Homo sapiens: one gene and its partners. The protein of the gene in region 4 purifies or fractionates together with the protein of the main gene of each other region. This does not show direct contact. Each region holds a gene or a part of one and is shown on either strand. Other genes may lie near its edges. The genes, in order: CCDC117, MYH9, DNAJC7 and HSP90AB1.

What was found.
Region 1: the proteins of HSP90AB1 (region 4) and CCDC117 purify together in Homo sapiens (affinity purification with mass spectrometry; 4 studies listed by BioGRID and IntAct, with this or other methods). This does not show direct contact.
Region 2: the proteins of HSP90AB1 (region 4) and MYH9 purify together in Homo sapiens (affinity purification with mass spectrometry; 4 studies listed by BioGRID and IntAct, with this or other methods). This does not show direct contact.
Region 3: the proteins of HSP90AB1 (region 4) and DNAJC7 purify together in Homo sapiens (affinity purification with western blotting; 3 studies listed by BioGRID and IntAct, with this or other methods). This does not show direct contact.

Annotation. Positions count from the first base shown.
Region 1 is NC_000022.11:28,768,447-28,775,694, forward strand, and holds the start of CCDC117 (coiled-coil domain-containing protein 117), read left to right. Parts: upstream 1-4,248; 5' UTR 4,249-4,403; coding exon 4,404-4,588; intron 4,589-4,690; exon of another isoform or gene 4,691-4,777; intron 4,778-5,278; coding exon 5,279-5,332; intron 5,333-7,248. UniProt on the Homo sapiens protein: Facilitates DNA repair, cell cycle progression, and cell proliferation through its interaction with CIAO2B.
Region 2 is NC_000022.11:36,286,968-36,295,483, reverse strand, and holds part of MYH9 (myosin-9), read left to right. Parts: intron 1-407; coding exon 408-552; intron 553-1,185; coding exon 1,186-1,392; intron 1,393-1,620; coding exon 1,621-1,725; intron 1,726-2,002; coding exon 2,003-2,155; intron 2,156-3,249; coding exon 3,250-3,498; intron 3,499-6,186; coding exon 6,187-6,399; intron 6,400-6,544; coding exon 6,545-6,757; intron 6,758-7,070; coding exon 7,071-7,232; intron 7,233-8,516. UniProt on the Homo sapiens protein: Cellular myosin that appears to play a role in cytokinesis, cell shape, and specialized functions such as secretion and capping. Required for cortical actin clearance prior to oocyte exocytosis. Promotes cell motility in conjunction with S100A4.
Region 3 is NC_000017.11:42,006,682-42,015,197, reverse strand, and holds part of DNAJC7 (dnaJ homolog subfamily C member 7), read left to right. Parts: intron 1-8,516. UniProt on the Homo sapiens protein: Acts as a co-chaperone regulating the molecular chaperones HSP70 and HSP90 in folding of steroid receptors, such as the glucocorticoid receptor and the progesterone receptor.
Region 4 is NC_000006.12:44,249,478-44,255,276, forward strand, and holds the end of HSP90AB1 (heat shock protein HSP 90-beta), read left to right. Parts: coding exon 1-106; intron 107-197; coding exon 198-357; intron 358-543; coding exon 544-677; intron 678-813; coding exon 814-1,122; intron 1,123-1,570; coding exon 1,571-1,736; intron 1,737-1,940; coding exon 1,941-2,131; intron 2,132-2,259; coding exon 2,260-2,407; intron 2,408-2,521; coding exon 2,522-2,790; intron 2,791-3,567; coding exon 3,568-3,901; intron 3,902-4,011; coding exon 4,012-4,121; 3' UTR 4,122-4,406; downstream 4,407-5,799. Other genes in the region: SLC35B2 (adenosine 3'-phospho 5'-phosphosulfate transporter 1), read right to left, coding at 5,229-5,799. UniProt on the Homo sapiens protein: Molecular chaperone that promotes the maturation, structural maintenance and proper regulation of specific target proteins involved for instance in cell cycle control and signal transduction. Undergoes a functional cycle linked to its ATPase activity.

The DNA of each region.
Region 1 (7,248 bases), on a different chromosome or scaffold from region 4:
CAGTAGTAGCTAGGACAACAGGCATGCACCATCATGCCTGGCTAATTTTTTAGGTTTTATTTTTTTTGGAGACTGGGTCTTGCTATATTGCCCAGACTTGTCTTGAACTTCTGGCTTCAAGCCACATCAGCCTCCCAAAGTGCTGGGATTTCAGATGTGAGCCACCACACCCAGCCTGGAAAAATATTTTTTTTTTTTTTTTTCCCCTAAACCCCAGAGTCAACAAGACTATTTGGTAGCCAAGGCTGGAAAAAAGGATATTTTTTAAGGTAAGGAATGAGGTGGCCATTTGTAGAAATTGCCCAGGAGAGTATCTTTTATATCCAGTTAAGCAGGATTTTACTTTAAGAATGCAAAATTGAATTGTAAATGGCATTAAGAAAACTGAAACCCAATCCATTATCTTGGCAAAGGGGGTTCGTTAGTTTTCTCTTGCATCATCACAATGGCAATAGAGTTAGAGAGGAATGGGGAGAATCTGGAAGCATTTTGCAAGTAAAGTCCATAGAACTTGCTAACTGACTAGATATGGGTGTGAACAAAAGAGAGGCATTCATGGTGATGCCTTGGTTTTTGGTCAGAAAGAGAAAAGTATCTTCTGACAGAGGAAACTTCCTTGATACTGGGAGGTGAAGCCAGCTGAGCTTCTGAGTCCAGTGAGGACTTGGAGAACTTTTGTGTCTAGTCAAAGGATTGTAAATGCACCAATCGGTGCTCTGTGTCTAGCTAAAGGATTGTAAATGCACCAATCAGCACTCTGTAAAAACGCACCAATTAGCACTCTGTAAAATGGACCAATCAGCGCTCAGTAAAATGGACCAATCAGCACTCTGTAAAATGGACCAATCAGCAGGATGTGGGCAAGACCAAATAAGGGAATAAAAGCTGGCCACTTGAGACAGCAGCGCCAACCTGTTCGTGTTCCTTTTCACACTGTAGGTTTGTTCTTTCACTGTTCACAGTAAATCTTGCTGCTGCCCACTCTGGGTTTGCACTGCCTTTATGAGCCATAACACCCACCGCGAGGATCTGCTGCTTCATTCCTGAAGTCAGCAAGATCACAAACGCACCTGGCAGAACAAACAACTCCTGACAGGCCACCTTTAAGAGCTGTAACACTCACTGTGAAGGTCTGCAGGTTCTCTCCTGAAGTCAGCAAGACCACGCACCCACCGGAAGGAAGAAACTCCGGACACATTTGAACATCTGAAGTAACAAACTGCAGACGCACCATCTTTAAGAGCTGTAACACTCACCGCGAAGGTCCATGGCTTCGTTCTTGAAGTTGGGAAGACCAAGAACCAACCGGAAAGAATAAATTCCAGACACAATACTGTTAGACTTCATTGTCCTCCTGTTAAACATAAAAATTTCACAGAGCGTTATCAAACAAGGCTATTCTGACCTCATGGATCACGACAAAAACAAGTTCACTTAATCCTGTCCAAATACAGGCAAAAGCATAAACATTGTCCAAACCACAAAAATTGCTAAATACCACCCTACCCTAACTGATATGAAGGACTGTTGCTACTTTACCAGTTAGAGGTTGAGCTTTCCTTCATTCCTCACACCTTATAGAAAAGATTGGTTAAGATACCCAATCACAGCGGGCAGATCACTTGAAGTCAGGAGTTTGAGGCCAGCCTGGCCAACATGGTGAAACCCCATCTCTACTAAAAATACAAAAATTAGCCAGGCAAGGTGGCACACACCTGTAATCCCAGCTACTCAGGAGGCTGAGGCACGAGAATTGCTTGAACCTGGGAGGGAGAGGCTGCAGTGAGCCAAGATAGCACCACTGCACTCCAGTCTGGGCAACAGAGTGACACACTGTCTCAAAACAAAAAGGACACCCAATCACAAATTTATCCCCACTTCCAGACAGAATTAATTCCAGAGCAAAGCTGTTTTCTTTCTTTTCTTTTTCCTTTCCTTTTCTTTCTCTTGCCCTTTCGCCCAGGCTGGAGTGCAATGGCACGATCTCGAATCTCAGCTCACTACAACCTCTGCCTCCTGGGCTCCCCGACTCAAGCTATTCTCCTGCCTCAGCCTTCTGAGTAGCCGGGACTACAGGCGCCCACCACCATGCCTGGCTAATTTTTGTATTTTTAGTAGAGACAGGGTTTCACCATATTGACAAGGCTGGTCTTGAACTCCTGACCTTGTGATCCCACTGCCTCGGCCTCCCAAAGTGCTGGGATTACAGGTGTGAGCCACTGCACCTGGCCGAAAAGTTCTTTTTTTTTTTTTTTGGAGAGGGAGTCTCGCTGTGTCTCCCTTGCTGGAGTGCGGTGGCGTGATCTCCGCTCACTGCAAGCTCCGCCTGCCGGGTTCACGCCATTCTCCTGCCTCAGCCTCCCAAGTAGCTGGGACTACAGGCACCCGCCACCACCCCCGGCTAATTTTTTGTATTTATTTATTTATTTGTTTATTTATTTATTTATTTTGTGAGACAGAGTCTCACTCTGTTGCCCAGGCTGGAGTGCAGTGATATGATCTCGGCTCACTGCAAGCTCCGCCTCCCGGGTTCACGCCATTCTCCTGCCTCAGCATCCCGAGTAGCTGGGACTACAGGCGCCCACCACCACGCCCGGCTAATTTTTTGTATTTTTAGTAGAGACGGGGTTTCACCGTGTTAGCCAGGATGATCTCGCTCTCCTGACCTCGTGATCCACCTGCCTCGGCCTCCCAAAGTGCTGGGATTACAGGCGTGAGCCACGGAGCCCAGCCAAAAGCTGTTTTTTAAAACCTTCCCTCAAAACGTCTAACACAACCCCAAATCCTATAAAAAGCCTTTGTAACACCTCCTAAGGGAGAAATTTCCTCACTGGAATGAGTAGATAAACCTTTCTTTGTTCAATTATGTACATGTGTGTGCTTTGGCTGAAGGGCATTGACATTGGCATAAGCAGTTTCGATTGGATGGTGGTGCTGTTGTGAGATGGAAAAAACAGGGCATAGTCAGTGATTGGGGGTTGACCATCTGCCAAGCCCAGGCAGGAGATACTGCCTCTGAATGCCCCAAAGAGGCTGGAAGGCTTGCCAGTACCTGTCACAAGTGCTCTGAGGCTTTTGTTTTTGTTTAAGTCCTGAGTTTACTTTTTTTTTTTTTTTTTTTTGAGACACGGTCTTGCTCTGTCACTCAGACTGGAGTGCAGTGGTGTAATTATAGCCCACTGTAACCTCAAACTCATGGGCTCAAGCAATCCTCTCACCTCAGCCTCCCCAGTAGCTAGGACTACAGACATGCACTACCACGGTGGGCTAATTGTTATTTTTTTGTTGTTGAGATAGGGTCAAGCTAGACCTAGGATGGACTCCTGGCCTCAAGCGATTCTCCCACCTCCCACCTCCGACCTCCCAAAGTGATGGGATCACAGGCGTGAGCCACCTTGCCGCGCAACTGAGGTGTTTTTTTGTTTTGTTTTGTTTCTTGAGACGTAGTCTCGCTCTGCCACCCAGGCTGGAGTGCAGTGGCACGATCGCGGCTCACTGCAACCTCCGCCTCCCGGGTTCAAGCGATTCTCCTGCCTCAGCCTCCCGAGTACATGGGATTACAGGCGCGCACCACCACACCTGGCTAATTTTTTATATTTTTGGTAGAGACGGGATTTCACCACGTAGGCCAGGCTGGTCTTGAACTCCTGACCTCAAGTGATTCGCCCACCTCGGCCTCCCAAAGTGGTAAGATTACAGGCGTGAGCCACCGCCCCCAGCCAGCAGCTGAGGTTTTTACTTAATTTTCTATGCTGTTCTAAGGCACCACCAACTTCATTTGTATTAAAATTGTTACATTTTTATTAATAGAGTCACATATGAATAACTGATAATGAGCGTGTATTGTATGTCAGGCACTGCTTTAAGGGCTCTAGATTGTTTTTGTTTTGAGACAGGGTCTCCCGGGCTCAAGAGATCCTCCCGCCTCCACCTTCCAAATTGCTGGGATTACACGAGTGAGCCACCGCCCTGCCCTGGCTCTAGATGTTTAAATTCATGTACTCCGCACATCAACTCTATGATTATATGTACTATTATTATCTCATTTTACTACTGTGGAAACTGAGATACGAAACTTGCGGAGTGAGGATTTGAACCTAGGTCATACTCTTGGCCAGCCAGAGACACCCTAAGCCCCAGCTAAGAGGTCGAGAAGCAGCCATTTTGCTTGTAGTCCGGAAGGACTGCAAATCCCGGCATCCCTCGCGGCAGCGGCCCTCTACACACAACAAATCCCGGCATGCCCCCGAGCGGCCTGAGGTGGAGGGTTCTAGAAGGCGTGACGTGGGGTCGAGAGCGGGATCCGAGGCTGGCGGGTTTTGGCAGTAGCTGTGGCTGCGGCTGCCGGGCCTGGGGACGCGGGCGGCCGAGGCCGCCGTCGCAGCCTCCTCGTCTCGCCGGCTATGGCTGCGCTCGGCCGGCCCTTCAGCGGCCTCCCTCTGAGCGGCGGCTCGGACTTCCTGCAGCCGCCGCAGCCGGCCTTCCCCGGCCGGGCCTTCCCGCCGGGGGCTGACGGCGCCGAGTTGGCCCCGCGGCCGGGACCTCGCGCAGTCCCTAGCAGTCCCGCTGGGAGTGCGGCGCGCGGACGGTGAGGAGCCCGTCGGGCGCAGGGCGCAGGGCGGGCGGGCGGGCGGGCAGGCTGGGCGCCCCTCGCGGCGGGCGCGGGCAGGGGCGCGGGCTCCGCGCCGGGGCTTTTTGACTCCCTCCCCACGGCCCTCCGCGGGAGCTTCGCAGCCCAGTTTACAGATGAAGAAACTGATCCCCGGAGACGTTAACTGTAAGTCGCCGGGGGTCACATAGCCCAGGAGTCCGGTCCGAACCTCAGCTCGACTGCGGCCCGGAGAAGTGAGACTTTCCCAGTTGGAACCTGGGCGACTCGGTCTGGGTGCCCCCTCGGCGCGGCCGCTGTTAGTGACAACTTTCAGTGTCTCATCTGCAAAGTATGCCAAGCATGGGACAGAAATGGGTCCTCTTAGTGAGATTATTTAAATAAAGTGCTTAACACAGCGCCTGCCCCGAGGACGTTTCCCTGGTTTGGTCCTCCCTAATCTGTCTTCCATTACGTTGATAAAAGGACAAGTTGAGATTTCACTGTCCAGTTCTGTCGGGGCAATCCACCGTTACCCGACTGACCTGTGATTTGTACCCATCCCACTAGGCTCAGAAAGGGACGTTTGGTATGTGGGGATGAGCAAGATTATTGGAGCAAGAAAGAGGATACTGAAACCACAAGCTCGAGTACATTTCTTAATTGACTGATTTTTGTTTGTTTCAACAGTGTTTCTGTTCACTGTAAAAAGAAACACAAGCGAGAGGAGGAGGAGGATGATGAGTAAGTTTCAGTGGTTGTTTATTCACTCTGTGGTCACCGTTAGTTGAACCCCTGTTATAGTCTAAATTACTTAAGTGAAAAGGTGAAACATTAGATGAGTGTCTCTGGAAAGAGACACAGAAATTAGTGACATTGGTTGTCTTTTAGAGAAAGTAACAGTGGCAGGCAGACAGGTCAGAGGGAAACTTTTCGCTCTATAACAAGTTGTAATATTTGGATTTTGAGCCATGTTAATATTACATGCACAAAGTAAAATAATTTAAAGGATACATATTGAAAAGTTTTGTTTTTGTTTTTTTTTTTTTTTGGGACGGAGTCTGCCTCTGTCGCCCAGGCTGGAGTGCAGTGGCGCTATGTGGGCTCACTGCAATCTCCGCCTCCCGGCTTCATGCCATTCTCCTGCCTCAGCCTCCCGAGTAGCTGGGACTACAGGCGCCCGCCACCACGCCTGGCAATTTTTTTTTTTTTTTAGTAGAGACGGGGTTTCACTGTGTTAGCCAGGGTGGTCTTGATCTTCTGACTTCATGATCCTCCCGCCTCAGCCTCCCAAAGTGCTGAGATTACAGGCCTGAGCCGCCCCGGCCTGAAAAGTCTTTTTTTTTTTTTTTTTTTTAAAGTCAGGGGCTCTGTCACCCAAGCTGGAGTGCAGTTGTGTGATCACAGCTCACTGCAGCCTCAAACTCCTTGGGCTCAAATGATCCCTCAGCTTCAGCCTCCTGAACAGCTGAGACTACAGACTTGTGCCACCAGGCTCAGCTAATTTTTTAAAAAATTTTTTGTAGAGATGGTGTCTCACTATGTTGCCCAGTCTGGTCATGAACTTCTGGCCTCAAGCAGTCCTCCCAACTCTGGGATTACAGGTGTGAACCGTCCCCCAGGCTGTATTACAAAATCTTTTACTCCACACCCCTAGTTTTCCCCACCAGAGACAACCCCCTTACCTGTTTTCATTGTCTCCTTTAGAAGATAATCTAAAAATTTACCAAGTTCACAAGTGTTTTTCTTTTTCTTTCTTTTTTTCTTTTTTGAGACAAGGCCTCATTCTGTCAGGCTGGAGTGCAGTGGCTGTGTTTTTACATTTGTAGGAAGATATGGTTCACACTGTGCAACACATTGATCTTTTCATTTTACTCTTCTGTAGCTTGTTGCATATCAGCACATAGAGAGAGGTTTACGTAATTTCTCTTTCAATAGTTGAGTGGAGGCCAGGCGTGGTGGCTCACACCTGTAATCCCAGCACTTTGGGAGGCTGAGAAGGGCAGATCAGGAGGTCAGGAGTTTGAGACCAGCTTGGCCAGCATGGTGAAACCCCATCTCTATTAAAATACAAAAATTAGCCATGGGTAGTGGTGCGTAACTGTAATGCCAGCTACTCAGGAGGCTGAGGCAGGAGAATCACTTGAACCCGGGAGGTGGAGGTTGCAGTGAGCCAAGATTGCGCCATTGCACTCCAGCCTGGGCAGTAGAGTGAGACTCCGTCTCAAAAAAACAAAAGAAAGTAGTTGTGTGGAATTCTATCGTAGGACTTGGTGTAGATAATTAACCAATTTCCTATTGATGCATTTCTAAATTATTTCTAATCTTTTGCTATTACAATCTACCCTGACCATTCTTTTGAAGTTCTTTGTATATGTTTGGAAGTATATGAATGATTTCCTTGACGTGGAATTGCTGGGTCTTAAAGTGTGTGCATTTTAAATTTTGAACGTGAGTTTTTGCCAATTTATATGCCCATTAACATCCTCTGAACACAAGTGTGTTTTTAAACTTCGGGATTGCTGCCCAACTAATAGATGAAAAATTATATCTCATAAACAGTCTAATAGAAAAAGAAGTAAGGCCAGGCGCGGTGGCTCACACCTGTAATCCCGGCACTTTGGGAAGCCGAGGCAGGTGGATCACGAGGTCAGGAGTTC
Region 2 (8,516 bases), on a different chromosome or scaffold from region 4:
CTCGGGATGGGGAGGGCAGCCAGGGGGGCCTTGGCTTGGAGACATGGACCCCGGGCCTCTGCACACACACACACACACACACCGTGGCCCTCTTAGGCACCAGCAGGCATGGAAGCTGCTGGTTCCTCAGCGGTTTCTCTCTACAGAGTAGAAAGTCTGTTGAAGGACCTGGCTCAAAGTTGGGGGTGAGGCAAGGCTGGGCTTTAAAGCTGAAAGGCTACAGAAGCTCTCACAGGGCGTATTTGAGCCTGGGCTATGGGATAGATGGCTAGGAGGGGCCGGTGGGTAGAAAAGCTGCCTGGAGTGCCTGTGCCCTGGCCAGGCCTCTCTTTGGTCAGGGAAGAGCCCCAGGGACAGCCTCGCTCCAGCATCCCCGGCCTCCACTCTGAGGGGATTTCTCTGTCCAGGTCAAAACGTGAGCAGGAGGTGAACATCCTGAAGAAGACCCTGGAGGAGGAGGCCAAGACCCACGAGGCCCAGATCCAGGAGATGAGGCAGAAGCACTCACAGGCCGTGGAGGAGCTGGCGGAGCAGCTGGAGCAGACGAAGCGGGTGCGGAGCCTCCCTGAGACCGCAGGGGGAGGGCAGGGTTCCCCGTGCTGGGCCCACAGAATCCAAACCAGTCCTGCAGAGCAGTTGCAGGGTTCTACCCAACTGCCTGGTTCTGAGGCCAGGCTCCCCTTCTAAGGGGCTTTGTGACTCGTGCCTCAGTTTCCCTGTTCATAAGGGAGGATTATGGTATGTCTGTCTCGTGATTATTTGAGGGTGAAAACATTACATCGTTACTTTGAACATCAGACTTCAGACAGGCTTTATTGGAAGTCTAACTGCAAACAATTATAGTTCCCCTTATTGCGTTACAAATATTGCTAACATCTGCAACACCAATGCCATGCCCTAGAACCTGGCCTCTACCCAGGGCAGAAGGCTGGGCAGGTATTATTTTAGAGATGGGGAAGCTGTGAGATGTCCTAAGCAGTGAAGACAGGAACCAAGTGTCACCCACCAGCTAAGAGAGAAGAGGACAGGACAGATGAGGCCCGAGCCGTCTGAGTCCAGGACGCAGGCACACCGTCGTCAGGGCTGCAGAAGCAGCGATGTCTGGATCTAGGGTCCAGTGATGATAGACCAGCCAGCCTTGTGTCAGGAGGCCCCCACTCACGTCTTTGCTTTCTTCCCTGCTAGGTGAAAGCAAACCTCGAGAAGGCAAAGCAGACTCTGGAGAACGAGCGGGGGGAGCTGGCCAACGAGGTGAAGGTGCTGCTGCAGGGCAAAGGGGACTCGGAGCACAAGCGCAAGAAAGTGGAGGCGCAGCTGCAGGAGCTGCAGGTCAAGTTCAACGAGGGAGAGCGCGTGCGCACAGAGCTGGCCGACAAGGTCACCAAGCTGCAGGTGAGGCCTCCGCCAGGACCCTGGCGCGGGCAGTGGGCCCTAGCAGCAGTTGTGGCCCAGGTCCCCAGGTGCATGTGTGCTCTCTGTCTCTCTCTCTTCTCAAACTGGCTCCTCAGACCCTCATGGTTCAGCTTGTGACTCAGGTCCAGCTTTACCTAAAGGAGATGAGGTGGGGCAGGAGCAGTGGGGGTGGGTCCATGGTCCTTTGTGTCTCCCCGCCCGGTGCAGGTGGAGCTGGACAACGTGACCGGGCTTCTCAGCCAGTCCGACAGCAAGTCCAGCAAGCTCACCAAGGACTTCTCCGCGCTGGAGTCCCAGCTGCAGGACACTCAGGTAGGGGTGGCGCCAGGTTCCCAGAAGGTGGACCCCTCCAGAAAGGCCTCTGTGTCCACGCAACATTAGCTTCAGAGCCCATCGGATTGCCCATCCTCTCCTTCATCTGCTTCATCCTGTGGGTGGGTCTCTGCGTCCTCCCAGCTCCCTCCAGGTCTTTACGTGGCCATCCCCTAAATCAGCAGGACCAGCTCCTCCCTCTCCTCAAGGGTGTGGGGTTCCTGGGTTTTGGACACCACCCTCCTAAGCACCCGCACCCCTCTCAACCCGCGAGTAGGAGCTGCTGCAGGAGGAGAACCGGCAGAAGCTGAGCCTGAGCACCAAGCTCAAGCAGGTGGAGGACGAGAAGAATTCCTTCCGGGAGCAGCTGGAGGAGGAGGAGGAGGCCAAGCACAACCTGGAGAAGCAGATCGCCACCCTCCATGCCCAGGTTTGGAGGCCTGGGGGACCGGCCGGACTCTGCAGGCTGGGGAGCTGCTGGCCGGGCACTGGCCTGGGCACTGCAGGACAGCCCTGCCCGCTGGGCCGGCCCATTGCTGCTCTCCCCCTGGGAAGCCAACCGTGCTCTCCCACATCAGTGCTCTCAAGGAAAGGAATCCAGGGATCTGTGGACTTAGATGGGGGACACCACTATTTTCACTATTTTACACCTTTATTTTCACCAGTCTTTAGCTGAAATTCAGCATTGCTTCCATTATGGATGTAGGCAGCAAGCCATGGTGGTGGCAGTCCCTGTGCCGTCATCATCTGTAGAAATGGCCAGTTACCCTGTCAGGGTTGTGGCCGAGCTCCTTGGCCTCATGGGTCCCAGGCCTGCGCTGTTTGTTATCTGATGTGCTATCTAGCAGCACGTGGCTTCCTGAGCCATGGTTTTTTAGAATGTGTGACAACTGCATTTTTCTGTACTGGTTGCCCTGCTGATCCCATGTTTATTTCATGCCTGTTACAACATTGTCATGAGAAGGAGTCCCTTGGCCTCTCTAGACTGCGAAGGGGTCCGTAGCCTAATATGGTTTCAGAGCCCCTGCTCTAGATCCTATCTTGGGCCTCCATGTGCCAGGCCAGAAGGCCTGAACCACCTCGGGATGGGCTGGGAGTCCATTCCACAGTCAGGGTAGGAGTAGCCCGCGAGCGTGCCTGATTGTGGGTTTATCTCCAAGTGCAAGGATGGGGCTGGGTGATGGGGACCCCGTGGACACCCTACAGGGCACTGGCCCTGCTCTCTGGGAGCAGTCTCCGTAGAGCAAGAGGCTTGGTGTGGATGTGGGCTGGGAGCCCCCACAGCGGGCCTGGGGGTCAGCCTCCCCCGGGCTTCACACAGTAGACAGATGCCCCTTTGCAGAAGCTCCATTTGTCTCGCCCCTGTGGAGAGGGAAGTGACTGGGGGAGGCGGTTTCATAACTGGGCAGATCCCTGGTGCCCCTTCCACGGTGTGGCAGGCAGGCTCCCAGCTGCCCCAGGGACGGGTGTGCCACCTGAGCAGGTGCCATCTCGGGCATCTGCTTACTCCTTGCTCCTGCCCAGGTGGCCGACATGAAAAAGAAGATGGAGGACAGTGTGGGGTGCCTGGAAACTGCTGAGGAGGTGAAGAGGAAGCTCCAGAAGGACCTGGAGGGCCTGAGCCAGCGGCACGAGGAGAAGGTGGCCGCCTACGACAAGCTGGAGAAGACCAAGACGCGGCTGCAGCAGGAGCTGGACGACCTGCTGGTGGACCTGGACCACCAGCGCCAGAGCGCGTGCAACCTGGAGAAGAAGCAGAAGAAGTTTGACCAGGTGTGTGGCCGTTGGCCCCATCCTTTGCATTTCCTCTCCTTCAAGCACTGAGTCCAAAGCAAAGGGCCCATCAGAGAAAGCCTGGGCTCCCTCAGGGTCTCGCCGGGGAGGGGCCGTGCGGGGCCAGTGCTTAGAGGACCCTCAGGCTCTGGCTTGTTGAGGGTCCCAGGGAGAAGGCCAGCGGAAGAGGGCGTCTTCATGCGATGGGTTGAGGAGTGACTTTTCCTTTCTGATTTTTTACATTTTTCAGATTTTCTCTAATGAACTGGTTTGACTGTCTTTTTTTTTTTTTTTTTTTTTTTAATTTTTTTATTGATCATTCTTGGGTGTTTCTCGCAGAGGGGGATTTGGCAGGGTCATAGGACAATAGTGGAGGGAAGGTCAGCAGATAAACAAGTGAACAAAGGTCTCCGGTTTTCCTAGGCAGAGGACCCTTTGGCCTTCCGCAGTGTTTGTGTCCCTGGGTACTTGAGATTAGGGAGTGGTGATGACTCTTAAGAGCATGCTGCCTTCAAGCATCTGTTTAACAAAGCACATCTTGCACCGCCCTTAATCCATTTAACCCTGAGTGGACACAGCACATGTTTCAGAGAGCACAGGGTTGGGGGTAAGGTCACAGATCAACAAGATCCCAAGGCAGAAGAATTTTTCTTGTACACAACAAAATGAAAAGTCTCCCATGTATACTTCTTTCTACACAGACACGGCAACCATCCGATTTCTCAATCTTTTCCCCACCTTTCCCCCCTTTCTATTCCACAAAACCGCCATTGTCATCATGGCCCGCTATCAATGAGCTGTTGGGTACACCTCCCAGACGGGGTGGTGGCCTGGCAGAGGGGCTCCTCACTAACCAGTAGGGGCGGCCGGGCAGAGGCGCCCCTCACCTCCCGGACGGGGCGGCTGGCCTGGCGGGGGGCTGACCCCCCCACCTCCCTCCCGGATGGGGTGGCTGCCGGGCGGAGACGCTCCTCACTTCCCAGACGGGGTGGCCGCCGGGCGGAGGGGCTCCTCACCTCTCAGACGGGGCGGCTGCAGGGCGGAGGGGCTCCTCACCTCTCAGACGGGGCGGTTGCCAGGCAGAGGGTCTCCTCACTTCTCAGACGGGGCGGCCGGGCAGAGATGCTCCTCACCTCCCAGACGGGGTCGCCACTGGGCAGAGGCACTCCTCACATCCCAGACGGGGCGGCGGGGCAGAGGCGCTCCCCACATCTCAGACGATGGGCGGCCGGGCAGAGACGCTCCTCACTTCCTAGATGTGATGGCGGCCGGGAAGAGGCGCTCCTCACCTCCTAGATGGGATGGCGGCCGGGCAGAGACACCCCTCACCTTCCAGACTGGGCAGCCAGGCAGAGGGGCTCCTCACATCCCAGACGATGGGCGGCCAGGCAGAGACGCTCCTCACTTCCCAGATGGGGTGGCGGCCGGGAAGAGGCTGCAATCTTGGCATTTTGGGAGGCCAAGGCAGGCGGCTGGGAGGTGGAGGCTGTAGCAAGCCGAGATCACGCCACTGCACTCCAGCCTGGGCTCCATTGAGCACTGAGTTAAAATCACTTTAATTATCATTATATCATTACATTATTATAATTATTTAATTATAGTTTGGGTTTTTTTAAAATAGTTTGGGTTTTTTTTTTTTTTTTTTTTGGAGACTGTCTCTGTCTGTTGCCCAGGCTGGGGTGCCGTGGTGCAACCACAGCTCAAGTGATCCTCCCACATCAGCTTCCTGAGTGGCTGGGACCACAGGCGTGCACCACCACCACACCCAGCTAATTTTTAGATGTTTTTCATAGTGACAGGGATCTCACCATATCGCCCAGGCTGGTCTCAAACTCCTGCGGTTTGACTGTCTTTTAAACGATTTATTTATGCATTCATATCACTTCCTTATTCCAAAAGATCTGAGAGCAGCTGAGGGGGATGTGGACTCGGGGGCAGGATAGAACAGTAGAAGACATCGGGCAGCCAACTGTGGTAGCCGGATCCGGCCCCTGCATTTTGTAGGGAACGATAGACTGAACACAGCCACGCTCCATGGTTCTCATGTTGTCTCTGGTTGCTTTGTGCTGTGGTAGTGGGGTTGAGCCATTGCTGCAGAGACTGTAGGGCCTGCATACTCTAAAGAATGCACTATCTGGCCCTTTAGGAAATGGTCAGCAACCCATGGGATAATTAAGGTTTGGGCCAAAAGGAAGGGAAGGTGGGGAAATAGGATAGAGCCAGGTGGGTGCACACAGAGAACAGATGCCAGGGGACAGCAGCTGTCATTAGAGAAGACCACAAATGGGGTTCAGGCTTCTTGGCAGCCAGCTTGGCATTCACTTCGTGAAAAGTGCCAACCAAATGCCAGCTGTGGTTCAGGAGAACCAAAGCTCTTACAGGTTTGGAGGGCTCTCATGGAAGGGGCAGCGTGCCATAAAGGGTTGCGATTAGTAAGTGATGAAAATTAAACAGACGTTACAACATGGTGTTCGCAGTAGTGCCTGCTCCAGTCGGCAGTCATCCCATCATGAGGATGCACGGGACTGTGTGTATTGTCCTGGGCACAGCCCTGGGCCTGTGCTTCCTAGGCCTGCTCCTCTCCACCGTGGCCTCTGGGCTCCTCCTTCCCCAGGGAGCTTAGGCCCAGCTGCCCTGCCCTGCTGGGGGCCGTAGCTCTGAGCCTCATGGTGCCCACCTCTTTCCCAGCTCCTGGCGGAGGAGAAGACCATCTCTGCCAAGTATGCAGAGGAGCGCGACCGGGCTGAGGCGGAGGCCCGAGAGAAGGAGACCAAGGCTCTGTCGCTGGCCCGGGCCCTGGAGGAAGCCATGGAGCAGAAGGCGGAGCTGGAGCGGCTCAACAAGCAGTTCCGCACGGAGATGGAGGACCTTATGAGCTCCAAGGATGATGTGGGCAAGAGTGTGAGTCCTGGGCCTGGCAGCCAGGTCTTGGGAAGGGCCCGAGTGGGGTCATCACAGAGGGTCGGTGTGTGCACAGACTCCGGGTCGCGCAGACCCAGGTACCTGCCAGTCCCTTTGCTCCTGACTTGGGCTCTCTGGGGCTCAGGTCCACGAGCTGGAGAAGTCCAAGCGGGCCCTAGAGCAGCAGGTGGAGGAGATGAAGACGCAGCTGGAAGAGCTGGAGGACGAGCTGCAGGCCACCGAAGATGCCAAGCTGCGGTTGGAGGTCAACCTGCAGGCCATGAAGGCCCAGTTCGAGCGGGACCTGCAGGGCCGGGACGAGCAGAGCGAGGAGAAGAAGAAGCAGCTGGTCAGACAGGTGTGCATGGCCTCCTGCTACCCCATGGGTGCCCAAGGCTGCCTTGGCTTCACGCAGGCTTCTGTTCTCTCCTTCCACCTGGATTGTGTTAGGGCCCCTTGACCACGCCTCCCCTCCCATATTCCTTCTTTCTAGCCTCCTGTCTCGGGGTTCAGTGACTCACTTTCTTAGAGTTCTTATGGTCAGTAATCCCCACTGGTTTCCCGAGGCCCCATGGATCCTGCAGAACTGGCCTGAGGCTCCTGAGTTCAGAGCTAGGGCAGGGTCTCCCAGTGGGTCCAGCTTCCCAAGTTGTTGATGTTCCTTCCCCCAGGTGCGGGAGATGGAGGCAGAGCTGGAGGACGAGAGGAAGCAGCGCTCGATGGCAGTGGCCGCCCGGAAGAAGCTGGAGATGGACCTGAAGGACCTGGAGGCGCACATCGACTCGGCCAACAAGAACCGGGACGAAGCCATCAAACAGCTGCGGAAGCTGCAGGTAAGGGTGGGCGGGGCCCAGGTGAGGGTGGGCGGCACCCGACTGAGCCAACTACATATGAAGGTGCCAGGGCTCGGCCCAGGGCGGGAACCTGGCAGGGTGGCACCTCCTGGGAAGGTCCTGGGTGCTTCCAGCCCCATCTCACTGACAGAGACTCAGAGGCTCAGAGGTGAGTGGAAACATGATAGTCCAACAGCAAACTTGCAAAACGGTGTATGACTGGGTACATAAAACACAGAAGCAAACAAGTACAAGCCTAGACATGGGTGGAGTTCAAGAAGGTCTCACTTAATGCAGACTTCCAGAATCACCCGGGTCCTGACACCCTTCAGCCTTCTGGGCTCTGGGGCGATGGTTCCAAGAAGCAGCCCGGAGTGTGGGACACATACTTGGAAATCTTCACCTCACTAATAATTAAAGAATAATTAACACGTAAAAACAGCTCTGATACGCCATATCATGTAACAAGAATAACCTTAGTTTAACAAATTTTTTTTTGTTTGTTTGTTTGAGACGGAGTCTCGCTCTGTCGCTCAGGCTGGAGTGCAGTGGCATGATCTCGGCTTGCTGCAAGCTCCGCCTCCCGGGTTCACGCCATTCTCCTGCCTCAGCCTCCCCAGCAGCTGGGACTACAGGCGCACGCCGCCACGCCCGGCTAATTTTTGTATTTTTAGTAGAGACGGGGTTTCACCATGTTAGCCAGGATGGTCTCAATCTCCTGACCTTGTGATCCACCCGCCTCGGCCTCCCAAAGTGCTGGGATTACAAGCATGAGCCACTGCGCCCGGCCAAAAAAAAAATGTTAAGTGTAAAAAAAAAACCCACAAAAACTTTAAAACTTCATTGTGGTCAAGGTTGTGGGCATAGATGCTCTGATTGCTGGTGGCATTTTTTTACTGGTGTGGTCGGGCTGCACACAGCCAGTCACTCTCTTTGATTTGGGGAATCTCAATTTCGGATTTATCTGCAAAAGGAAAAAAAGGCTATTTGACAAAGGTCTTTAGTGTTAAAAGAAGTAACAGGAGAATAACAAAAGGAAAGGTGTTTCCTGCCTGTGGTGGGGATGGACCGGCAGGCTGGGCACTGGTTTTGAGTGGCAGGTGCGCATTAGGGGTGGCACCATGGGCACTGGCTTCCGGCCCACAGGAGGGGACAGAAAGTAGAAAATGAAGCTCAGCTTGGGCTCACGTCCACGGTGACGAACACTGTCAAAGTGTGCATTACGGGGTGGGATACACAGATGATTGTCTTTAGTTGCCTTTTTGCCCTGTCACCACGGTTAGT
Region 3 (8,516 bases), on a different chromosome or scaffold from region 4:
AACCAGCATGGCCAACATGGCAGAACCCTGTCTCTACTAAAAATACAAAAATTAGCGGGGCGTGGTGGCACACACATGTAATCCCAGTTACACGGGAGGCTGAGGCAGGAGAATCGCTTGAACTCAGGAGGTGGAGGTTGCAGTGAGCTGAGATCGGGCCATTGCACTCCAGCCTGGGTGACAAAGTGAGATTCCATCTCAAAAAAAAGTCATTGATTGCAGAATGCAAATTATTTTATCTGTCACTAAGAAAATGTAACTGTAAATTAAACATGACAACATGCATTATTCCTGTAGTTCAAATAGTGACAGAAAAAAATTAATTAAAAAAAGAAAAAAGACTGGGCGTGGTGGCTCACACCTGTAATCCCAGCACTTTGGGAGGCCAAGGCGGGTGGATTACCTGAGGTCAGGAGTTCGAAACCAGCCTGACTAATACGGTGAAACCCCATCTACTAAAAATACAAAAATTAGCCAGGTGGGGTGATGCTGTAATCCCAGCTAGTCAGGAGGCTGAGGCAGAGGTTGTGGTGAGGGGAGATCATGCCATTGCACTCCAGCCTGGGCAACAAGAGCAAAACTCCGTCTCAAAAAAAAAAAAATCAATTAAAAAAAGAAAAAAATGCATTCTTATCAGACTTTTATGTTTCTCATATATAGCACTGTTTTCGACAGACTTAAACATAGTTATTTATTATATACCACTTTTTTGCACAAATCAAAAGGAAAATTGGCTGGGTGCAGTGGCTCACACTTGTAATCCCATCATTTTGGGAGGCTGAGGTGGGCGGATCACGAGGTCAGGAGTTTGAGACCAGCCTGGCCAACATGGTGAAACCCCATCTCTACTAAAAATAGAAAAAATAGCTGGGCGTAGTGGTGGGCACCTGTAATCCCAGCTACTCGGGAGTCTGAGGCAGGAGAGTCGCTTGAACCCGGGAGGCGGAGGTTGCAGTGAGCCAAGGTCACACCATTGCACTCCAGCCTGGGCGACATGGTGAGACTCCATTTCAAAAAAAAAAAAGGAAAATAAGTGAAATAAACAAAAAAATCAGTTTAACTTTTTGCCATATCAGACATCCTTAGAAGAATAAACATTGGCCGGGCGCGGTGGCTTATGCCTATAATCCCAGCACTTTGGGAGGCTAAAGCAGGCTGATCACCTGAGGTCGGGAGTTTGAGACCAGCCTGACCAACATGGAGAAACCCCATCTCTACTAAAAATAGAAAAAAAAAATTAGCCAGGCATGGCGGTGCATGCCTGTAGCCCCACCGACTTGGAGGCTGAGGCAGGAGAATCACTTGAATCCGGTAGGCGGAGGTTGCGGTGAGCCGAGATCGTGCCATTGCACTCCAACCTGGGCGACAAGAGTGAAACTCTGTCTCAAAAAAAAGAATAAACATTAGGCTCTGTTAGTATGAAAAAGCCTTGTTTATGTATGATTTTTCCAGTGCTGAAAATGGGATGGAGATTTAGAAGCTTTGGAGGGAGGTGGTTTTATGTTTTTCATGTGTCCTGGATTCCTCTTGTGTGGCCATAGCAGAGGGCAGTGATAGGGGCATCCCTTACAAATGCCCTTTTACTGTCTGGCTTGGTTAGAGTTCTTTGGCCAAGTTCCTGCCTCTGTTGTTATGGTCCTCCTACCAGTTCATTTAGGGATCAAGAGTTAATGAGTCTCTCGGGTCGTTTTTGTGAGGTCCAGCTTTGTAAGGAGTCCTTCCTTCCTTACGTCTTGGCTTAAGACATGTCCTGCTGCTGCTAAGTTGTCACAGTCCCATAGGGGGGCAAAATGAGAGGAGCTTTTAAGACGGACTTCACGATTGCAGCATTTTAAATGGCTACATGTTTTATTTCCTTAGCTTTAGTGTTTCTGTAGAGAAAAGAGATGGATTTCAATTTTTTTGCATGTCACTCTGACAAAGTTCTGTTTCCCTTACAGCAGCCAAGAAACTAAAATAAGGCTAGGCTTAGTGGCTCATGCCTGTAATCTTAGCACTTTGTGAGGCCAAAATGAGAGGATCGCTTAAGCCCAGTAGTTTGAGACCAGCCTGGGCAACATAGTGAGACTTAGTCTCTATAAAAACATTTAAGGCTGGGTGCGGTGGCTCACGCCTGTAATTCCAGCACCTTGGGAGGCTGAGGCCAGTGGATTGCTTGAGGCCAGGAGTTCGAGACCAACCTGGGCAACGTGGTGAAACCCGCCCCCCATCTCTGTAAAAAAAAAATACAAAAATTAGCAGGGTGTGATGGTGCATACCTGTAGGCCCTGCTACTTGGGACGCTGAGGTGTAAGTATCACCTGAGCTGGGGGAGGTCGAGGCTGCAGTGAGCTGCGATCACACCACTGCACTGCATCCTGGGTGACAGAGTGAAACCCTGTCTCAAAAAAAAGGGTTGGGGCTAAAATAAAAGATATATTAGTTGGCACTCCAAAACAGATCAGGATTCTATGCATGAAGATTATTTCTCTTTGCTCACCAAAACAGGCAAAGCTATTTATGAGCCAGAGGGTTAAACTTCAGATGTTTCACATTTCAACTAACTTAAGGCTTTATATTTTCCTGGGAAGTTGCTGACTGCTTTACCTAATATGGGAATACCTGTCTTGAATTAAGGATCTCTTGTTATATCTCCTGGGCTGGGAAACAGCTTGATCTCTATAGGGAGTCTTTCTTATGGTAAACTTGAGGGATTTCAAATTGTTTTCTTTTCTTTTTGACGGAGTCTCGCTCTGTCACCAGGCTGGAGTGCAGTGGTGTGATCTCAGCTCACTGCAAACTCCGCCTCCTGGGTTCAAATGATTCTCCTGCCTCAGCCTCCCGAGTAGCTGGGACTATAGGCGTGTGCCACCACACCCAGCTAATTTTTGTATTTTTAATAGAGACGGAGTTTTACCATGTTGGCCAGGATGGTCTCGATCTCTTAACCTCATGATCCGCCCGCCTTGTCCTCCCAAAGTGCTGGGATTACAGGCGTGGGCCACTACACCCAACCTCAAATTGTTTTTCAAAGAGAAAACACTTACGTGTCTCAGCATATACCTAGTGTGACTGGACAACAAGATCTAAAAGAATCAAGGGATCCATAGACTTAAGAGTCAGGACATCCTTACCTGATTCCTTGAGCTGATAAACTTAACTTCTCTGTATGTTTTCCTGATGGGCACAAATAAGAGCAATTCTTATTAGGCCCTTACTACCTAGGTATTGTACACTCTTTGCGATTAGGATTTTGCCTTTTATTTCTCTATTCAGATTGTTAATGGGAACAACTGAACTCTCAATTCATGTCCCGGGTTTCCTGTAGTTGCTGTTCGTTTGCTGCAGCTTTGCATGGTGTTTTTGAGTTTGTGGCCTCACTTAACTGAAGAGCTTGTGGGCATGCCTCCCCAGCTTTCTTCCTTACCTGGTTTTAAATTCTTAGGAATGTGTCCTTCTAATCTTCCTCTTGAAGTTTCAGAGCAAGCACCTAGACATTTCAGTAAGCCTCCAAACTGAGTGGGAATTTATCTTTGACCTGGAACCCAAATCAGTGAGAAACACTATTTTCCTTTTGCTGTGCACTAAGTGTAGTCAGATGTGAAGAAATGGGAGATGGGAGGAGAAATAAGTTAAGGAAGGGATAAACCTAGGAATACAGAATTCTCAATACCGGCAAATTAATTGAACCCTGATACTAACAGATGGCAAAGTAGATAATCATAACTGGAGCAAAGGTAGAGTACAGAGAAAGGTTCTCTCTTAGTGCTTTAGTTCAGATCCACATGTTAACTAGTGCCAGAGAAACAAGAATTTTGAGAAAATATAGGGCCAAGTGAGTGGCAGTTGCTTAGAGTCCAGTCCACTCCCAACAAACAGAACTCTGATTGGCCGAAAGCCCAGCCTTATTGTACATTCCAGCCAATCAGGGATTAGTTTAGTCATTGAAGTTTGTATTTTAATGGTTTTGAAAAGCTGAGTACTGGGCACTTGCTTTTTTGTTCTTCGGGACTTTAGAAGTTTGGAGAACAATAGTCAGCAGTTGCCTAGTTGCTTTGTGGCCTGATGCAGAGTCCCTCTGAGAGCCCATTTCTCCCTTACTGCACTAGTCTTTGGTCCCCTTTCTCCAGCACTGAGTGATGTGGAAGTTACTCAGAGGTCTTTCCAGGTATTCTTTTAAACTTTTGAAGTAAGAACAAAATTCAAAGTGCAGTTATCCTAACAGGCTATTCATTTTATTGGAGTGACACTGTTTTTCCTTCTCCCATTCGGATCAAAATGGCAATTCCTATGTTTTACCCTCACCATGGGTAAGAATATGAGTGGTTGAGGCTTTTGAGAATGGTAATAGGAGGAATATATGACTCTCAGGTCTTATTCTGAGACGTGAAATTCTATTGGCATGTGACTTACAATTTGTGTGGGGAGGCCAGATTGTCAGATAAGCAGTGTTAACCATCTCTCTTGATTCTAATATTACTTTTGGAGAGAGTGTGAGGGGCAAGCAGGACCCTCTCTTGTTTTTGGAGTTTCTGTCCTGAGAGTTCTTCCTTGGACAGTTTGCCCTGAGACAGTTAACCACCTGTTGAACTAAGGAACCAAGACAACTTTGAGAAGTGAAATACCGTTGACAATCCAGGCTCCTCCCCACTCTAGTTCCCATCTCCACCCCACCCCACTCCACCCAAAAAAACTCAGGAAGCAGCCTTTATATATATATATTTTTGAGACAGAGTTTCATTCTTGTTGCCCAGGCTGGAGTGCAATGGCGCAATCTTGGCTCACTGCAGCCTCCGCCTCCCGGGTTCAAGCAATTCTCCTGAGTCAGCTTCCTGAGTAGCTGGAATTACAGGCATGCGCCACCACGCCCGGCTAATTTTGTATTTTTTTTTTTTTTTGTAGAGACAGGGTTTCTCCATGTTGGTCAGTCTGGTCTCGAACTCCCGACCTCAGGTGATCCACCCGCCTTGGCCTCCCAAAGTGCTGGGATTATAGGCGTGAGCCACTGCACCCGGCCTAGGAAGTAGCCTCTTTCTTTCTCTCTTTCTGTCTGTCTCTTTCTTTCTTTCTTTCTTTGTGATGGAGTCTTGCTGTGTCTCCAGGCTGGAGTGTGCAATGGCACGATCTCGGCTCACTGCAATCTCCGCTTCCTGGGTTCAAGCTATCCTCCTGCCTCAGCCTCCTGAGTAGCTGGGACTACAGTTGCATGCCACCATGCCCAGCTAATTTTTTATATTTTTAGTAGAGACGGGTTTCACCATGTTGGCCAGGATGGTCTTGATCTCATCACCTCAGGATCTGCCCGCCTCGGCCTCCCAAGTGCTGGGATTACAGGCGTGAGCCACTGCGCCAGGGCAAAGCAGCCTTTTCCTTAATTGTAGTTCCTCAGTTTTAAATTTTTGATGGGTGCTGGTGTCCCTATAGTGGGAGATGTCACAGAATAGGGAACCGAGGGATGGAAAATGGTGGGTTTGGGGATATGTTATGAAAACAAGCCTCTGGCTAATGCTGAAAAGCCAGTGACTTGTATCCTCAGAATGGTTTCAGAGAAGCATGTTTCCCAGAAGTAGCTTCATTGTTGGGTCTCCTCTCCCCAGGGATAAGTGAAGGTTAGGTAGATGTAATAGATTGTGACACCTCTCATTTAAGGACCTAAAATAAATTTCCAACTCACCGTTGAGACAAGTATTTCCAAGTGAATATGTTTCTGCCTGCAGTGATGGGATTTCTGTAGGGATTGAATTGGTTGCTTGCTTTTTCTTCCTTACTGAATAAGGCATAGCCAGCTGCATAGCCAGGCACAGCTTGCTGGCTGGTGTCCGTCCCTGCCTGAACAGTAGGGAGTGCTGCTGCTTTGTGTAGACAGTCTGTGACTCCTCTGGTGCATTTTGGGTCCCTTCTGACTCTGCCCGTGTTGAGGCTTCTCCTTGAATGTCCACCCAGAGGACAATTTGAACTGGTATGTTAAGGAATTTTCTTCATCTTCTGCCTTCTCTTTATTAGCGGAGATGTGTGGAGGGTTGTTCCATTTGTGCTTTAAAGTGAAAACTATCTATTCTGTAGGAAATTGGGTAAAGAAAGCTGAGTAGCAGATAGCTTTGCTAAAAGGTAGCAGTTGGATAGCGCTCACCTTCTATTTTTTTCTGGATGAAGCACCGAGCATAAATACCTTGCCATATTTATAGAATTATTCCAAGTCATATATCTATGGCCCGGCGTGATGGCTCACGCCTTTAATCCCAACACTTTGGAAGGCAGAGATTGGCGGATCACTTGAGGTCAGAAGTTTGAAGACCAGCCTGGCCAACATGGCAAGACCTCATCTCTACTAAAATAAACAAAGATTAGCCAGGCATGGTAGTGGGGCCCTGTAATCTCAGCTACTCAGGAGGCTGAGGCAGGAGAATCACTTGAACCTGGGAGGCAGAGGTTGCTGTGAACTGAGATCACACCACTGCACTCCAGCCTGGGCAACAAGAGTGAGAGTCTGTCTCAAAAAATATATGTCTGACCCGGCGCGGTGGCTCACGCCTGTAATCCCAGCACTTTGGGAGGCCGAGGCGGGCGGATCATGAGGTCAGGAGATTGAGACCATCCTGGCTAACACGGTGAAACCCCGTCTCTACTAAAAATACAAAAAAATTAGCTGGGCGTGGTGGCAGGCGCCTGTAGTCACAGCTACTTGGGAGGCTGAGGCAGGAGAATGGCGTGAACCTAGGAGGCGGAGCTTGCAATGAGCCGAGATGGCGCCACTGCACTCCAACCTGGGTGACAGAGCGAGACTCCGTCTCAAAAAAAAAAATCTATATCTATATATATATATCTATACCTGTGACTTCCACTTATCTATGTGAAACTTATATTGACATTTCACTTGTAGAATAGTAGATTTTTTTTTTTTTCTTTTTTGAGACGGAGTCTCACTCTTGCCCAGGCTGGAGTGCAATGGCACAGTCTCGGCTCACTGCAACCTCCGCCTCCTGGGTTCAAATAATTCTCCCGCCTCAGCCTCCCGAATAGGTGGGATTACAGGCACCCTCCATCATGCCCGGCTAATTTTTGTATTTTTGTAGAGATGGGGTTTCACCATGTTGCCTAGGCTGGTCTTGAACTTCTGACCTCAGGTGATCCACCCTCCTTGGCCTCCCAAAGTGCTGGGATTATAGACATGAGCCACCTTGCCCAGCCTAGATTTTTTTTTAAAAAAGAAACTTCTTACCGGGCACATGCCTGTAATCCCAGCTACTTGGGAGGCTGAGACAGGAGAATCAGTTGAACCTGGGAGGCGGAGGTTGCGGTGAGCTGAGATCACGCCATTGCACTCCAGCCTGGGCAACAAGAGCGAAATTCTGTCTCAAAAAAAAAAAAAAAAAAAAAAAAGGCAGTTTTTTCTGGCCAATTGTGGTGGCTCATCATGTGTGTAATCTTAGCACTTTGGGAGGCTGAGGAGGTGGATTGCCTGAGCTCAAGAGTTTGAGACCAGCCTGGGCAACATAGTGAAACCCCATCTCTACTAAAATACAAAAATTTAGCTGGGCATGGTGGTGCGTGCCTGTAGTCCCAGCTACCAGGGAGGCTGAGGCACAAGAATCGCTTGAACCTGGGAGGTGAAGATTGCAGTGAGCCGAGATCTCACCACTGCACTCTGGCCTGGGCAATAGAATGAGACTGTCTCCAAAAAAAAAGAAATTTTTTTCTTAAAGAAGAATCTAAATGATATGCTTTTGGTAAGATGGAATAGAAGTTAGGCTCCTGGGCTCCTTTTACTTTATTTTGTCATGAAGGTCAGGGAGAGTGCAACATGAAACAGGCCCTGTGACATGCCATTGGGGACAAGAGGTCTCGGACTGTGGGAAGGAGGAAAGAATTTCTACTCTGACTGGCCAAGATCCCGTGAATTCTGAAGGGTGGAGGGCATTTCTAGATCAACAGGCAACTAGTAAGTTTGACTGAATAAAATAAATGGAGCACAACAATCATAGAGTAAGGCGACATTTGGGGAGTAGTAAATATAAGAGGAATGCATAAGGGATATTGACTCATTGGCAGTATAAAGTATTATTATTAATAGCCTAAAGGAAAAGAAAAGTATCTTTTTCTTTTTCTTTTTTTTTTTTGAGACAGGATCTTGCTCTGTTGCCCAGGCTGGAGTGCAGTGGCGCGATGTCAGCTCACCGCAAGCTCCATCTCCCGGGTTCACACCATTCTCCTGCCTCAGCCTACTGAGTAGCTGGGACTACAGGCGCCTGCCACCTTGCCTGGCTAATCCTTTTTTGTACTTTTAGTAGAGATGGGGTTTCACCGTGTTAGCCAGGATGGTCTTGATCTCCTGACCTTGTGATCTGCCTGCCCAGCCTCCCAAAGTGCTGGGATTATAGGCGTGAGCCACCGTGCCTGGACTTTTTTTTTTTTTTTTTTTTTTGAGACGGAGTCTTGCTCTGTTGCCCAGGCTGGAGTGCAGTGGTGTAACCTTGGCTCATCACAACCACCGTCTCCTGGGTTCAAGGGATTCTCCTGCATCAGCGTCCCGGGTAGCT
Region 4 (5,799 bases):
CCTGACTTTGGTAGACACAGGCATTGGCATGACCAAAGCTGATCTCATAAATAATTTGGGAACCATTGCCAAGTCTGGTACTAAAGCATTCATGGAGGCTCTTCAGGTATTGCAGTTCTGTAGGCATTCATACTTATCTGTGTTCTTTGGTTTTTTGCTTCTTTAAAACTTGTGATTGACTTTAAACTTGTTGGCAGGCTGGTGCAGACATCTCCATGATTGGGCAGTTTGGTGTTGGCTTTTATTCTGCCTACTTGGTGGCAGAGAAAGTGGTTGTGATCACAAAGCACAACGATGATGAACAGTATGCTTGGGAGTCTTCTGCTGGAGGTTCCTTCACTGTGCGTGCTGACCATGGTAAGTTAGCTTTTCTGTTACAAGGTAGTTGGGTTAGGATTTTCTGGGCTCACACCAGTAGCAGAAATTTTGGGCATCCTGTCTGTAAAGCAGTTCTTCACAGCAGTTCTGCTGATACTTACTAATTGCTGGTCTCAACTGCATATACTTTTTACCCTGTTACACGCTTGTAATTGACTCTTCTAGGTGAGCCCATTGGCAGGGGTACCAAAGTGATCCTCCATCTTAAAGAAGATCAGACAGAGTACCTAGAAGAGAGGCGGGTCAAAGAAGTAGTGAAGAAGCATTCTCAGTTCATAGGCTATCCCATCACCCTTTATGTGAGTATGGACTTTTAAATCTTTTACACTTAACGTGCAGGATGTTTCCTGTTCTGGAGAATCTCATTGTCCCTGGCTTTTGCTTTCCCTGGTAGTGTTTTGTACTCCAAGGCTAACTTCTGTTTTTGTTACTTAGTTGGAGAAGGAACGAGAGAAGGAAATTAGTGATGATGAGGCAGAGGAAGAGAAAGGTGAGAAAGAAGAGGAAGATAAAGATGATGAAGAAAAACCCAAGATCGAAGATGTGGGTTCAGATGAGGAGGATGACAGCGGTAAGGATAAGAAGAAGAAAACTAAGAAGATCAAAGAGAAATACATTGATCAGGAAGAACTAAACAAGACCAAGCCTATTTGGACCAGAAACCCTGATGACATCACCCAAGAGGAGTATGGAGAATTCTACAAGAGCCTCACTAATGACTGGGAAGACCACTTGGCAGTCAAGGTGTGAGAAGCCTTTGCATGTTGGCTCAACATGCACATATGGAGAGGAATGAGTTAGGTGGAAGAGTGTTGGGTAATAGACACACGGAACTTGTCCAACTGATAACAGAAATGTGATAGCCATGTGATTTCACTTACTGATTACCCTGTCATAGTGAAGTGCCATCATTTCTAATGACCTCACTTTCTCTTCTTATGGAAATCTGGGTAATGTCTATTGGCAGCCTTACACATCCAGGGTTCTGATCAGAGGGGACTGTTTTCTACATACAGCTAGTACCCATCTAGATCGTGGAGGGCATTAAGGCTCAGTTTTCTCAGGAGCTGCTTGTTGTGTGTGCTCTATCCCTTAGGCTTAGGGAGGATCATTGTTCCACTTTTAGATAATTTGGTGTTGGGGCTAAAAGGTCCTCTTTTGAAATGTACCACTTATTTTTGGTTTCTTTCAGCACTTTTCTGTAGAAGGTCAGTTGGAATTCAGGGCATTGCTATTTATTCCTCGTCGGGCTCCCTTTGACCTTTTTGAGAACAAGAAGAAAAAGAACAACATCAAACTCTATGTCCGCCGTGTGTTCATCATGGACAGCTGTGATGAGTTGATACCAGAGTATCTCAGTGAGTATCTCCTTGGCCTAATTTAGTTGGGTGAAGTCTTGGGAGGTTTTAGGCATTCTGCTAGGATATTCTAAGGTAACAGTTTTCTGCAATACATAGTAGGTGTAAGGGTTCAGGAGGCTATTAGAGCCTTCTGTTTGAATCTGGGGACCAGGTCTGGTCTAGCTGTTTTTTACTGAGCTTTCTCACCCTGGTTGATGGCAGATTTTATCCGTGGTGTGGTTGACTCTGAGGATCTGCCCCTGAACATCTCCCGAGAAATGCTCCAGCAGAGCAAAATCTTGAAAGTCATTCGCAAAAACATTGTTAAGAAGTGCCTTGAGCTCTTCTCTGAGCTGGCAGAAGACAAGGAGAATTACAAGAAATTCTATGAGGCATTCTCTAAAAATCTCAAGGTAAAAAGGCAAATAATGCTTATTCCCTTTACCACTTTCTTAGTAATAACAATAAATTATTCCATTCACATTGAAAGTGAAGTTATTGTAGTTAAGCTGGATTGTTTTTCCTCTTCCCACCCTTCAAGCTTGGAATCCACGAAGACTCCACTAACCGCCGCCGCCTGTCTGAGCTGCTGCGCTATCATACCTCCCAGTCTGGAGATGAGATGACATCTCTGTCAGAGTATGTTTCTCGCATGAAGGAGACACAGAAGTCCATCTATTACATCACTGGTGCGTTGACTCTGATTGAAGCCTTTTTGGAGGAGTGGGGAGCACAATTAGGGCTTCCTGGGAACTGGCAGTATGAGGCATTTTAGTCACTGAGTTCATTTAATTACCCTACAGGTGAGAGCAAAGAGCAGGTGGCCAACTCAGCTTTTGTGGAGCGAGTGCGGAAACGGGGCTTCGAGGTGGTATATATGACCGAGCCCATTGACGAGTACTGTGTGCAGCAGCTCAAGGAATTTGATGGGAAGAGCCTGGTCTCAGTTACCAAGGAGGGTCTGGAGCTGCCTGAGGATGAGGAGGAGAAGAAGAAGATGGAAGAGAGCAAGGCAAAGTTTGAGAACCTCTGCAAGCTCATGAAAGAAATCTTAGATAAGAAGGTTGAGAAGGTAAGCCATTCTGGGGCTAGGATATATTTTGTAACATCTTCGAGGTGGGCTCCCTCACAAGCATGTTTCTATACAATTAGTGGTTTGAGGCAGCCTATTTACTGTTTCATGCCTTCTTGCCTCTTGTTCTCTTCTCTAGTCAGGTTTAAGGCTATTTTAATAAAATTTGGCACAGATTAGGCATTGCTTCAGTTAACTTCTGAGAGTAGATAAAATACCATCATTTTCTTTTTTTTTTCTTTTTTTGAGATGGGGTCTCGCTCTGTCACCCAGGCTGGAGTGCAGTGGCACGATCTCTGCTCATTGCAAGCTCCGCCTCCTGGGTTCACGCCATTCTCCTGCCTTAGCCTCCTGAGTAGCTGCCACTACAGGCGCCCGCCACCACACCCCGGCTAATTTTTTGTATTTTTAGTAGAGATGGGGTTTCATCGCGTTAGCCAGGATGGTCTCCATCTCCTGACCTTGTGATTCGCCCACCTCGGCCTCCCAAAGTGCTGGGATTAACAGGCGCAAGCCACCATGCCTGGCCGATTTTTTTTTTTTTTGGACTGGATCTCGCTCACTGCAAACTCAAGTCTCCTGAGTGGCTGGGATTACAGATGTGTGCTACCACACCCGGTTAATTTTTTGTAGACAGGGTTTTGCCATGTTGGCCAGCATGGTCTCAAACTCAAGTGGTCTGTCCACCTCCTCCCCCTGCTGGAATTAGGCTTGACAATGCCTGTTTTCTCTTTCAAAGTGGTAATGTCAATCTAAGGCTTTTGTGATCGTCCACAGGTGACAATCTCCAATAGACTTGTGTCTTCACCTTGCTGCATTGTGACCAGCACCTACGGCTGGACAGCCAATATGGAGCGGATCATGAAAGCCCAGGCACTTCGGGACAACTCCACCATGGGCTATATGATGGCCAAAAAGCACCTGGAGATCAACCCTGACCACCCCATTGTGGAGACGCTGCGGCAGAAGGCTGAGGCCGACAAGAATGATAAGGCAGTTAAGGACCTGGTGGTGCTGCTGTTTGAAACCGCCCTGCTATCTTCTGGCTTTTCCCTTGAGGATCCCCAGACCCACTCCAACCGCATCTATCGCATGATCAAGCTAGGTCTAGGTAAGTAGCTTTGGTACTTGGTGTGGCAAGGAGTTTGTGCAACTCGTCTCCTCTATGGATTTGACTTAATGCTATTTGGTCAAGTCTCACATGGCTTAATTTTACTTCAGGTATTGATGAAGATGAAGTGGCAGCAGAGGAACCCAATGCTGCAGTTCCTGATGAGATCCCCCCTCTCGAGGGCGATGAGGATGCGTCTCGCATGGAAGAAGTCGATTAGGTTAGGAGTTCATAGTTGGAAAACTTGTGCCCTTGTATAGTGTCCCCATGGGCTCCCACTGCAGCCTCGAGTGCCCCTGTCCCACCTGGCTCCCCCTGCTGGTGTCTAGTGTTTTTTTCCCTCTCCTGTCCTTGTGTTGAAGGCAGTAAACTAAGGGTGTCAAGCCCCATTCCCTCTCTACTCTTGACAGCAGGATTGGATGTTGTGTATTGTGGTTTATTTTATTTTCTTCATTTTGTTCTGAAATTAAAGTATGCAAAATAAAGAATATGCCGTTTTTATACAGTTCTGCTTTCCCTTGTGAAGTGGATGTTATCCTTCCCTAGCTTCTTCATCCCTCCAGCTCTTGCTGTTTTCATGAGCACAGCAAGTTGAGCTGGTTTTGTAGTGAAAATAACAGAATACCAGTGAGTCTTAAGAGTTCACACACTGAAGCTAAAGGCAGTTTGGAAAAACTACCATATAATAATGCCCTTTCAGTCAACCAAAACACAGGACCAAGTCCACTGCAGTAATTTAATTTAATAAAATAAAATTATAAGAGCAAAAAGTTACATTTCTAAAGTACCAAAACCTGCAACAGGCTCATGGAACAGAGCCTAGGGATCCAGGAGCATAGGAGGTGGTGGTGCTGGGCAGGGCTCTGCATCCCCTTTCCTCAGCACAGCACCATCTTCACCCTCCTGGGAAAGCAGCATTGGAGCCTACACCGCTTGTGCTTTTCTCACCAGGGTAAGAAATGCAGGTATTTGCAGAGGGGAGTGAGTCTGGAAGGTGGCAGAGCACAGCTAGGGCAAGACTTAAGGGAACTTGTGGGAAGAGTAACTGGAACCTACCTATGCTCTCTTGACCCCAAACTCCCCAAAACCCCTCACTGAGGACTGTCTACCCCCGGGGCTCAGAATAAACTGCTTACTGGAAGATGGGTGACTTAAGGCAAAAGGGAAGGCTGCCTCCTGGGCTCCCCAATCCCCTGCTGCAGAGCTGGTCTGTGATACTGAGAAAACACCTGCATTTTGCCCTTTCAGCCAGCTCCCTCAGAGGTTACAGCAGAAGGGGATGGTGGGAGGGTCCTATTTCACTTCACCCCTCAGGCCCTTTCCACCCTCAAACCTTCTGCACAGGAGACTCAACAGGCACAGCCTTCTTTCCCCGTTGCTTTAGACGGCCCCGCGCGTAGACTCTGAGCAGGAGGGCAGCAAAGACCACAGCCACCCCCAGCCCTCCCACCACAGTGACAGTGTGGCCATAGAGAAGGCAGGAAAGAAGGATGGCAAAGGCCTGGCGGAGGGTCATGATGATGGTGAAGACGGCAGCCCCAAACTGCCCAATGGTGTAAAAGATGAAGAGCTGGCCACATGCGGAGCAGATGGAGAGTAGCAGGGCATGGGCAGCAAACTCACTGTGTCGCCCCATGAAGCGGGTTCCCTCCAGTAGGGCCCCCTGTTCTAGCAGTGAGCCCACTGTGAAGAGGCAGGAGAAGAAATTGACCCCAAACATCATCTGCACCGATGACATCTTATAGGCAAACAGGGCATCCTGCCAGTTTGAGGTGAAGCTGTCAAAAGCAATATAACCTGCCAGTAAGATGAGGCCTGAGAGTGTGGTGGCTGGGGAGCTGCGGGGCTCTGGTCCGCTGGATAGCAGAAACATGCTGACCCCAATGGAGATGAGGGTG